Linked DNA regions of Homo sapiens: region 2 is linked to region 1. A link means that fine-mapping ties the variant in region 1 to the expression of a gene that starts in the linked region. Tissue or cell type: whole blood. Region 1 holds a variant in brackets; the other region holds the start of a gene. All regions are shown on one strand. Distances are between the middles of the regions.

Region 1 (5,694 bases):
AACCCCATCTCTACTAAAAAAAAATAAAAAATAAAAATTATATATATAAATTAGCCAGGCTTGGTGACAGGTGCCTGTAGTCCCAGCTACTTGGGAGGCTGAGGCAGGAGAATCGCTTGAAACTGGGAGGCGGAGGTTGCAGTGAGCCAAGATGGTGCCACTGCACTCCAGCCTGGGCGACAGAGTGAGACGCCATCTCAAAACAAACAAACCAACAAAAAAACCCACCTTCTCAGATATGTGGCATAAAGAATTTCTTAATCCAGGACGTTATTCCTCTACTAAAATAAAAACTGACTAAACAATTAGGACTTCTTACTGAAAAATGTAGGCAAAGTGGTCATCTATCACAGTGCCCACCAGGATGAAGTTTGTAGCAAAACTCAAGGCTACCACAAAGTAGTGCTACTGCAGCACAGACTGAACAAGGAGATCCTAGAGTAAGATACCAGATTAGTGCTTAAACCCTCAAGAGAAAACCGTCAGTCTGGATCAAGAGAAAAGTTCATCCAAACAAACCTACTTTTCAGACAAGCACATATATATGATCTATGGCACATACCAAAATGAAGAAAATAGCAGTTACAGTGGCCAATGTAGAACACATTCTTCAACTTACCTTTTTTTTTTTTTTCTGAGACAGAGTCTCGCTGTCACCCAGGCTGGAGTGCAGTGGCACAATCTCAGCTCGCTGCAACCTCCACCTCCCGGGTTCAAGCGATTCTCCTGCCTCAGCCTCCCGAGTAGCTGGGATTAAAACAGGCATGTGCCACCACGCCCAGCTAATTTTTGTATTTTTAGTAGAGATGGGGTTTCACCATGTTGGCCAGGTTGGTCTTGAACTCCTGACCTCAGATGATCTGCCCACCTCAGCCTCCGAAAGTGTTGGGATTACAGGCATGAGCCACTGTGCCCATGCCCGGCCCAACTTACGTTTCATCTAATGACCTTATTAAGTGTTCACTTTTCAAAGGATCTTTTAACTTCTTCTGAATGAACATTAGTCAGCTGCCCCTCCCACTAGCCAATCTTTAGCCCTGAGCACACATGGGTATAAAAACAATGGAAAACAATCAAATTTAATAGTATCCTAAGTCTCAACCCAAGAGGAACAATTAGTAGTAACACTGATTGAGCTGCTTCACCACCTTTCCCCACAACCCACCTCCATGTCACCATCTGCTATTCCACTGACTTGGAGGCCAACGATATAACCTGCCCCACAACACTCTAAAACAGCTACCTACTTTTATCTCAAAAGTACTGACAGAAGGCTCCATTAGCAGCAAACAGACCTATGAACACAAGGTCCTCTACGCTAGGAAAGCATTACTCTTTGAAATGGGGCTATATTTACAAATTTTATTTTTTTATCCCAAAAATACATATAAATGAAAACCTGCTCTTCAAATGCAGGGAGGCCTTTGCCTAACATTGTCATATGAAAATCAGTATCAGCTCTTTAACACACAATTTACATATATACATACATACACACTATATGTAAGCAGCAAATACTTTGCTACTTACACATATTCCTCTGGTGGAAAACTAGGACACTGGGAAATTCCCCTGCTTTCCAACCTTGGGAAGGTAAATACAACCTCTCTCAACAACTTTTTAAAGGATGAAATGTGTAGAAACATGTAAACAACACAACCTGCTTTAGATCTATACATGTTATTAGAATAAAGAAAGAACGCTGTCACATCAGTGACAGTTTATTTCTCAAAGAAAAAAAGAGATAACATTTGAATAAAAATGCAAAACTGAAGTACAGTTAATATGATCAAAATTGTTGTGTACATGCTCCATGGAGAAATCAGGAATTCTTTCACAAAGAACAGATCCACAGCCAATTTCAGTCACTTGTGATGCTGAATCAGCACCCACTGGTAGCAACCAGGATCCTTCTGTACAGTCACGGGCTTGAGCAGGTGCCATAAAGCATCTGTTTAAGTTAAACAGTCAATAATGTTTACTGACTGCAGTACATTCCCACCCCCCAAAAAAATAAGTGCAAAATCAACTTCTAAGCTCAAGAGCTCAAACAAGTCAAAGCTTTGGTATATACTGGAGGTTGTTTTGGTGATAACCAAAGCCTAGTAAGATTCTCTGCTCAGGGGTTCGCCCCAAAAGAAAAACACCTGGTCCACAAAGCTTAACACCTATATAAATAAAGTAACTGTACAAAGAGAACAAGCCATGATTTCCCCTTAACCAAGGGTTTATAGTTTCCTAGGCAGCAGTTCTGAAAGCACCAACTAAAACCACAACACTTCTACTAAAACACGGTGTGTTGTAATTGGTGAGACTGTTCTGAAAACAAATGCCTGCAGGCATGTGGCCAAGGTGCCACAGAAAAAGTTTAACAAACATTAGTCAGTGTATTCAAATGGTAACACAATCTGGTCAGCAACAGAGGAAAGACTTAAGGCAGTAAGAGGCATTACAGAGAGCACCATAGTGCTGGACCCACCACCATAGTGCTCTCTGAGTCAATCAAAGACTTCCAAGAAGGAAACCGTGTATCAATAGTTTGGGTTCTTAGTTTGCTAGCTGTCAGACACTTCTTCCTCCTCCTCCTCATCCTCGTCATCTTTCCTGTCTATTTCAGAAGTGTCCGACGACTCATGGAGCAAGACGTATTCTCTGCTACTGAATCCAAATTTGAGTACATCCTTTTCTTTTAGTTCATAGTATCTCTGTGGCTCAATACGTTTGTTGTTTAAGAAGGTTCCATTGCCTGAGCCAAGGTCAATGATGTAGGGCTTCACTCTTCGGCCAACTGTGCCATCAGCACGGGTATATTCCACAAGCCTAGCAGAAAAAAAGGAGAAACCTGTGAGCAAACTTCTGCCTCAGATCATCCAGCTTCTCTAAAGCTCTTTGCTAAGATAGCCTAGATGACGTAAATAACCTGGCTTGAGCACAATTCAAGTTAAAATTCTAGGGAATCAAAGAAATCAAGGGGAAAGCATGGCCCTGGGAAGGAAAATTGGAAGTTTAAATATACTTAGAAAAGGTGAGAATGGACCGGGCGCGGTGGCTCACGCCTGTAATCCCAGCACTTTGGGAGGCCGAGACGGGCGGATCACGAGGTCAGGAGATGGAGACCATCCTGGCTAACATGGTGAAACCCCGTCTCTACTAAAAATACAAAAAAATTAGGCAGGTATGGTGGCGGGCGCCTGTGGAGCCAGCTACTTGGGAGGTTGAGGCACGAGAATGGCGTGAACCCAGGAGGCAGAGGTTGCAGTGAGCCGAGATCACGCCACTGCACTCCAGCCTGGGCAACAGAGCGAGACTCTGTCTCAAAAAAAAAAAAAAAAAAAAA[G/A]GTGAGAATGAGTTGCTGGAAGGTGGGGAGAATCCATGGTAGATCAAAAGGTGGAAATGCAGAATCCAATGTCTCTTGCTGTGGTTAAGAAAATACATTTTTTTCTGTTGTTTATAATCAACATAATGTTTCTTTAACCTATATTTCAATATATTTTAGTTCCTGTCCAAATGGGAAAAAACAGTGCACTTGGACTTCAGAGTCAAGGGAGCTATATTTGAGCCAGAGTTCTACTATGGCAGGGGTCCCCAGCTCCTGGGCCATGGACTGGTACCAGTCCGTGGCCTGTTAGGAACCGGACCACACAGCAAGAGGTGAGCAGCGGGCAAGCAGGCAAGCGAGCCAAACTTCATCTATATTTTCAGCTGCTCCCCATCACTTGAATTATCATTGCCTGAGCTCCGCCTCCTGTCAGATCAGCAGTGGCATTAGAGTCTCGTAGGAGCATGAACCCTATTGTGAACTGTGCACAGGTGGGATCTAGGTTGCGCGCTCCTTACGAGAATCTAATGCCTGATCTGTCACTGTCACCCATCACCCCCAGATGGGACCATCAAGCTGGAGGAAAACAAGCTCAGGGCTTCCACTGATTCTAGATTATGGTGAGTTGTATAATTATTACATTATATATTACAATGTGATAGTATTAGAAAATAAAGTGCACAATAAATGTAATGCACTTGAATTATCCCGAATTCCCCCGGTTCCATGGAAAAACTGTCTTCCATGAAACTGGTCCTTGGTGCCAAAAAGGTTGGGGACCACTGTACTATAGTGATCATTTGTTAGGCAAGTCACTTGGTTTTGCTGGGCTTCAGTCTTCTCATCTGTCAAATGGGGATACAAATACGTGTCCATTCGAAGTCAGGAGACCATGTTAAAAAACAAACAAACAAAACGGGCCAGCCGCAGTGGCTCACACCTGTAATCTCAGCACTTTGGAAGGCCAAGGCAGGCGGATCACGAGGTCAGGAGTTCGAGACCAGCCTGGCCAATACAATGAAACCCCGTCTCTACTAAAAATACAAAAATTAGCTGGGTGTGCTGGTGTGTGCCTGTACTCTCAGCTGCTCGGGAGGCTGAGGCAGGGGAATCACTTGAACCCGGGATGCAGAGGTTGCAGTGAGTTGAGATCGCGCCACTGCACTCCAGCCTGGGCACAGAACGAGACTCCGTCTCAAAAAACAAAAAATCTATCCTATCCTTCTCACAGGATTGTTGTGAGAATCATCACAGATGTCCCATGCAAGCTATCAAGATCCAGTTTCAAAATTAGCTGGGCACAGAGGCACACGCCTGTGGTCCCAGTTACTCAGGAGGCCGAGGCAGGAGACAATCATTTGAGCCCAGGAGGTTGCCGCTGGAGTGAGCTGTGTTTGCTCCACTGCACTCTAGACTGGGTGACAGAGTGAGACCTTGTCACAAAAAAATAAAAAATAGATTAAAAGTTTAATGTTCTTATAAATATGTAAGCAATTATTTAAAGGGCAGTTAGATTAACAATACTCTTTAGATAACATATGAGGGGTATGGGATTCTTCTGCATAAACATGAACAAAAATCTTAGTAATCCTAACTGAGTGATTGTTTCTGCTCACATTACAGTTTCTTCCTCCATGTTACTTACCGATATTGAAAGACCGCATGCTGCTTTGAACAAGACGGGTGATCAATTGGAATGTCTGCAATGCGGCGGTGTCGACCCAGTAGGTACGCACTCTGTCGATGTATGTACATGACTGGAAGCACCTCATCATTTTTAAATGGGTAGAGACGCCACCGTTTTTTGGGGATACGTGCTTCTGGGGGCTCACTATATTTAATGACTACACCCCGGAAAGTGTTGGTGTCCTCAAGAAGTGCCCCAGAAAGTTCAAAGCTTGGTTTTTCTTTAGCGGGCACCTCTTTTTCTTTGTTGTTGCCACCAGGCCGAGGAACCAACTCCTGAGACTCACTGCCGCCACCACCAACGTCATTCCTCTGGCGATGCTCCCGTCGCCTGGCATTATAAAACTCCCGCTCTTCTTCCTGAGCCTGCAGGTTCTGAGTGTCTCGATCCCGTCCCTGACCCTGCCCACTCCCAGGCCTCTCGTTAGACGTTCTCCTTTGGTGGGAATGGCCCCGGTGTCTGTCCCGGTCACTGTTCCTAGCTCTCCTGTGTTCCTGTTCTGATGGTTCCCTGTGCTGCCGATCCTCCCGTCCTCTCCGGGGATGATCCTCACGCTCCTAAAATTCAAACAGATTCTGTAATTTAAACGCAGTGCACAATCTAAAGGCAGCCCAAATCTTGTTCTTTTTGAACGAAGTGCATGCAAAAAGTCTTGTAATTTGGACTTTGGCATTTAGAACAACATTTC
Region 2 (5,816 bases), 64 kb before region 1:
AAAAAGAAATATACCAGGAGTCTCAAACATGGGAGGGATCTGGTCCTTTCTTCACTTCTAGGAGGCCTTGTTGAATTTAAACATCACCTCAGCAGCCACTCCCTTAAGGCTTGAGGGCAGCCTGCCCAGCCTTTCTACAGAGGTAGCCCAGTTCCCGGGTCCTCCCCAGGCTGAGCTGCCCAGTGAAGCAACTGAAAGCCAAGGTCATTCCTGGGACCTTTCCCTCTCCAACCTCATCTCCCAACCCCCCACCACCCTCAGGCAGTGACCAGTCCACAAGCTTTGCAGACCCCACCTACGCTGGCTGGGCACAGGCAGATAGATGGTGGGAGGCCAGGCAGGCTCCAAGAAGGAAATTAGCCAGCCCAGCTGCCAAGACAGGCATACGAGAGGCAGAGGGGTTTGTGTGGGCTCGGCTTCAGAGAACTCCTGGGGATTAGGGCCAAAGTTTGCAAAATCCAGCTGTAAACGGAGCAGGGGTTCCCCAAAGAAGCCGTGGGTTCTGTAGAGGAGAGTCGGCTTCTTGGGAAGTAGCATGAGCCGGAAGACAGCGAGACTGTGGCTCTCTCTGGGAGGGCAGGGAGCAGCATGACTCATCGCCTAGTCCTGCTGGCTCCTACTGGCACAGGGCTGGGCAGCAGAGGGTCTGGGAGCAGGAGCAGAGTCTGGTCTTGTTGCAGCTCCAGAGGAGGTCTCAGGCTGGCAAAGACAATCTAACACGTTGGGACATAGGCAGGGTGTTGTGGGGACACTTAGGAGGGTACAACCAGCATCAAAGGAGTCTTGGCTGGCCTCACAGAGGAGGTGACATCATCCAAAAGATGAATGGAACTGGCTAGGAAGCAGCTGGGTGGGAGAGAGGGAAGGGCACTCCAAGCCAAGGAAGAAGCAGAGCAGAGGCCCGAAAGTGTCTGCAAGGCGCTAGCTGGTGCCTGCCACCCAGTGAGCACTCTATAAATGGGAGGCATTATCTCTATGATTGATTAGTATTGTCATTATCATTATTAACCTGGACACATCACTTAATGTTTTTACTATCTTAAAGGTAGTTGCTATAGCGAATAAATGCTTAACATAACTGAGCTCTTCTCATCTGTAAAAGGGACTGTTGTGAGGTTAGGGGTGCCGCCGGCACCGCACTCAGCTGGAGTGACAGCAAGCATGTGAGGTGCCCAGCATGGGATGTGAGCTGGCATGCAGCAGGGGGCCTTGTGTTTCCTCTCTCCTTGGGTTGCCAAGCCCCTGGAGCTGCTGTGCCTGGGGAGCAGAGAAGGGGACACTTTGGGGTCTTCAAAGATGACCAGGCAACAAAGCAGGAACACCGCTAGGTAAGAGCAAGCAAGCCCAGAGGAACAGCCTCAGGGTCCAGATAGAGACGTACACGCCTGCCTCCCTGGGGTCTTTGGTGGCCTCCCGAACAAGCAGGTGTGGATGGGGAGATGGACTGCCTTGGAGAGAGCTACATGAGTTCCAGCTCCACCAGCCCCCAGAGCCTGAGCAGGTGACTTCACCTTTCTGAATCTCTGAACATCCATTTCCTCCACTGTACAATTTCATTAAGATACATACAAGAATATCCAAAGCACAGTCTTTGTAATAGAAAAAAAATCCTAGAAACAACATCCAACAGCAGGTGACTGAATAAGTAACCAGTGGTATATTCATAAAATGGGACACTATTCAGTAGTAAAATAAATTACAGGTATGCAGGCAATCAAAATGGATTTTTAAAAATATAATGCTGTATGAAAAAGGAAGTCACATAATTATGGAATGACTCCGTTTACACAAAGTAAAAAATAGCAAAACTATACAATATCCCACTTAGGGATGCATACAGAGGTGGTAAAACTACAAGAAAAAGCAAGAGAATGACTAGCACAATTAAAGTTCAGGAAACTAGTTCTTCAGGATGTGGGCAGGAGGCTGTGATGGGGGCACCCAGAGGGCCTCAAGGTACTGGCACTGGTCTATTTTTTAAGTTAGGTGATGGATACATGGCTTTTTTATTATTACTATTATTCTTTAAGCTGTACATGTACAGTTGTGTCTATGGTGTCTTTTACAATAAACAAGTATTTATTATAACACTAGCACTTATAGGATACATGCCTATGATGAGGTAGAGAGAATGTAACAAAGGACTGGCACATAGTAAGCACTGGTGGCATGTGGCTCTGTCCTCCAGCGTGTGGGCTCTGTGTTTTCTCTCTCTCTCTCTCACTCACACACACGCACGCACACACACACACACACATAGGAAGCCAGGCTCCCCTCTGCCCTCAGTCACTCGTGGTTCACAAAAATGGCAAATAATAGGAGCACTAGAATAGGAGCTCTCCATCCTGGTTCGAGTCTTTCCAGCTGGGGCAGTTTAGCCTTTGCAGAATTTCTCAAGGGTAACATCAGCATAATGACCTCTGTCTGTAAGCCCGTGAGTGTAAGCCTGTAAAGTGCTGTGCTCATGCGAGGGATCAGGTCTGACCTGGGAAACTAAAAGCATCTTCATGGAGCAAGGGTGCTCCTCCAGTGGGGGCGCTCAGTGAGTTCTGCGGTATGGGTGACAGTATTCTTGTGTGGACAGTATTCATGTGGTGATTGGGGTAAATGGCCCTCTTTTGCCTGGTTTTCTGCCTCGGTCATTGTGCATCTGCTGACTGAACCTGCCTTTTGGTCCTAGTAAAGTACAGATTTCAGGAAAAGTGTACCTGGCCCCGGGGGTGGCCAACCTCTGTGTGACGGCTTTAAGCACAGTGTGTCTTGAGGGGGCCTGACTCCATCTGAAAAGTGCCTGTCTGGATGTACCTGTCTATAACCATGGACCTGCCTCCAAGGTGCGTGGACCAACCTCCGCGTACCTGATTCACTCGATGCGCACCTGGCCGTACGTAGCTTCATCAGGCAGGGTGTACCTGTCAAGTTCTTAGGTCCGAGTGTTCGCGGCTTTACCTGTCCTGGTACCGCCGTCCGCACCTCGGTCAGTGCGTCCCCGGCAGGTGCGTGTACCTGATTCAGTCCGTGCTTATCTTGCGCATACGGGCCGTTCAGTGTCCCGCTCGGAGCTCGTCGCCGCCGCAGCCTTGAGGCTCCGACCCCCGCTTGGGCCCCGTCCGGCGCGCAGCGGCCGCGGGGGCGGGGCCGCGACGCGAGGAGCGGAGCAGGAAGGGGCGAGGCAGCCCCGCCCCCGGGGCGGTCTCCCGGGACGGCCCCGCCCCTTGCCCGCTTCCGCGTCAGTGCCTCACCACCACCTGCCCGCGCGCCGCCCCATATAAAGGCGCCGCCGTCCTTACCCCCAGGACTCGGCCCCATGGAGACGCCGCCGGCCGCCGCTGGCGCATGGCGGGGTGAGGCGCGGCGGGGAGGGTGCGGGCCTCGGCGGGGAAGCGGCAGGGAGCGCTCCGGCGGGGTCCGAGCCGAGCCGAGGGGAGGGGACGGGAGGGGACGGGAGGGGTGGAGAGGGGAGGGGACGGAAGGGTCGGGGTCCTGTTCCCCGGCCCGCCGGGCCTCAGGACCCCTCCAACTTTGCCCAAGTTGGGAGAGCCGGGGAAGAGCACCAGGTTCCTGATCGGGATCGCGGGCCGAGCAAGCGCGGGTCTCGGGCCGGGACAGCCTCGGCGTCACCAGCTCCCGGCAGCCAACCAAAGTTTTCCAGCAACTTTTCTCCCCACGGGTCACCCCAGAAACTTGCCCTCCCCGGCTCCGGGAGTCCGGCCATGGGCCTTGCGCTGCCTGGGCCTGAGCTCTGAGTGCCGGACGGGTGGGCGAAAGTGGTGGCCTCAGTGGGGAAGCCTTGGGCCCCGCAACGCACTTCCAGCCCCAGGATTCCATCTGAGAGCCCCGTCCCTGCCTTCTGGGTCCCCTGGGTTGGCGTGGGGGTTCGAGGCTTTACAGCTGGGGTAGTTCCAGTCTTAGTTCAGACTAAGTTCCGATCTTCGAGCCACCAGCTAACAGCTGGATGACCTTGAGCACGTTTTTAATGTCTGTGCCTCAGTTTCTCCCTTTATAGAATGGGAATGGGAATGCCTAGCTGGGAGAGCTTTTGAGAGGACAACCTGAACTAATAACACGATGCAGTGTGTAGTGCCACCAATCCCTCATCCTGCTGGATGTGGTTTTGGGAGGGAGGTTAGGAGAGAGCGCTATTCACCGTCCCTAACCCTGTTGGTTGTTCAGTAGGAGCTGTGGCGCGGGGCCTTCCAGGAGTCTGAGCTATGAGTGGCCCCTGTGGAGAGAAGCCTGTCCTGGAAGCCAGCCCCACCATGAGTCTGTGGGAATTTGAGGACAGCCACAGCCGTCAGGGCACCCCAAGGCCGGGTCAAGAGCTGGCCGCTGAGGAGGCCTCGGCCCTGGAACTGCAGATGAAGGTGGACTTCTTCCGGAAGCTGGGCTATTCATCCACGGAGATCCACAGCGTCCTGCAGAAGCTGGGCGTCCAGGCAGACACCAACACGGTGCTGGGTGAGCTGGTGAAACACGGGACAGCCACCGAGCGGGAGCGCCAGACCTCACCGGACCCCTGCCCTCAGCTCCCTCTAGTCCCGCGGGGTGGTGGCACCCCTAAGGCTCCCAACCTGGAGCCTCCACTCCCAGAAGAGGAAAAGGAGGGCAGCGACCTGAGACCAGTGGTCATCGATGGGAGCAACGTGGCCATGAGGTAAGTGTCACTTCTGTGGCCAGGACACATGAGGTTCGCATCTCTCCTGTGGCCAGGACACATGGAAGGATGACTGTCTCTGCAGCTCTGGTGGGCTGGAAGAAGTGACTTCCTTCTTAGGGACTGGTCTAGAGGGAGGGAAAGCCTTTTATGAGGCTAGGGTCGCGCTACTGGTAAGTGACAGAGGCAGGGTTCCAGCCCAGGTCCCTCTGTCCGCAGAGCTTACCTTATGCTGTGGGTCCCTCCCTGAGGCCAGCACTGTGTCTCCACTCCTCTCCTGTAATGTGAGGCAGGGCTGTAAAGGGGACCAGCCCGTGGGCAGCTGCTCACTCACCCCTCGGAACCTGATCTCAGGTGGGTGTTGTGAGGAGGGAGTGTGCGGATCCCGGAGAGGAGCAAGCGTTCAGGAACCATAGTAGTGGTAGTAGGCAGTGGTAGTAGCAGTTGTTGTTGTTATTTCAGGGGCTGGGCTTCTGAGGCCTTCTTGTCTCAGACCTGGGCTCCCACGAAAACAGGTCCAGTGACTGTGTCCAAGAGTGACCTCAAGGCTGGGTCCAGCTTTACATGGGTTGTGGGCAGGTGGCCTGATGCTCTGGCCTCAGGCGAGCTGCAACTTGGATCCCTACTGACTCAGCTGAAGCAGCCTGGGCTGGACCAGTCTCTGGAGGTTCCCCGGGGCCAGAGCCAGGACTCAGCCCCCAGTGACTCCCACCCCCATCCCCCAGCACAGGAATGGGGTGGGGAGGTAGGGGCAGAGAGGGAAGCCAGGGCTGCTGCTGACCTTGGGAAACCCAGACTTCTCCCGTCAATCCAGGCTCCACCCTCTGGCCCCACTTTTTTCCCAGTTCCCTCCAAGGCAGGCTGATGAGTCAGTGCTGGGTGGATGGCTCACAGGGAAAAGTTCCTGTTGGCATGGACGGGGAGACCCCAGACACAGGGTTGAGAAGGGATGATTTTCTGGCTGCCCTGAGGGAGCTCCTAGGTGGGCTGCCCAAGGCTGGCATGACATCAGCCTCTGCCCTCCCTAATTTGTGGCCCCTGTGGGACAAGTTCACTGTCCAGCTGGCCCTGGCCCAGCTCAGCAGGCATGCAGCTGAGTGCTCTTCCCTCCTTCTGTCACCTTCAGGCCAGTCTTCCTCTCTCTGACTTGGGCTGAGCCTGG

Evidence for each region. PIP is the estimated chance that this variant, and not a neighbour inherited with it, causes the effect.
Region 2: LITATS1 starts here. The variant in region 1 is fine-mapped to the expression of LITATS1 in whole blood (TOPMed, PIP above 0.99).

Annotation. Positions count from the first base shown.
Region 1 is chr1:37,535,193-37,540,886 of GRCh38, forward strand. It overlaps SNIP1 (Smad nuclear interacting protein 1), which reads right to left. Exons shown (of 4, transcript NM_024700.4): 3 at 4,965-5,563; 4 at 1-2,820. The coding sequence ends at 2,556. It overlaps LOC105378649 (a long non-coding RNA gene), which reads left to right. Exons shown (of 3, transcript XR_947190.3): 3 at 3,497-3,544. Among named protein-coding and RNA genes, the nearest start is that of SNIP1, 16 kb to the right of the region's middle. RefSeq lists an enhancer at 4,499-5,694. The variant G/A (reference allele first, on the strand shown) is at 3,338.
Region 2 is chr1:37,471,286-37,477,101 of GRCh38, forward strand. It overlaps LITATS1 (lncRNA induced by TGF-beta and antagonizes TGF-beta signaling 1), which reads right to left and starts at 3,158. Exons shown (of 3, transcript NR_038842.1): 1 at 2,859-3,158. It overlaps ZC3H12A (zinc finger CCCH-type containing 12A), which reads left to right and starts at 3,295. Exons shown (of 6, transcript NM_025079.3): 1 at 3,295-3,344; 2 at 4,174-4,654. The coding sequence starts at 4,212. RefSeq lists silencers at 2,470-2,569, 3,030-3,489 and an enhancer at 4,140-4,239.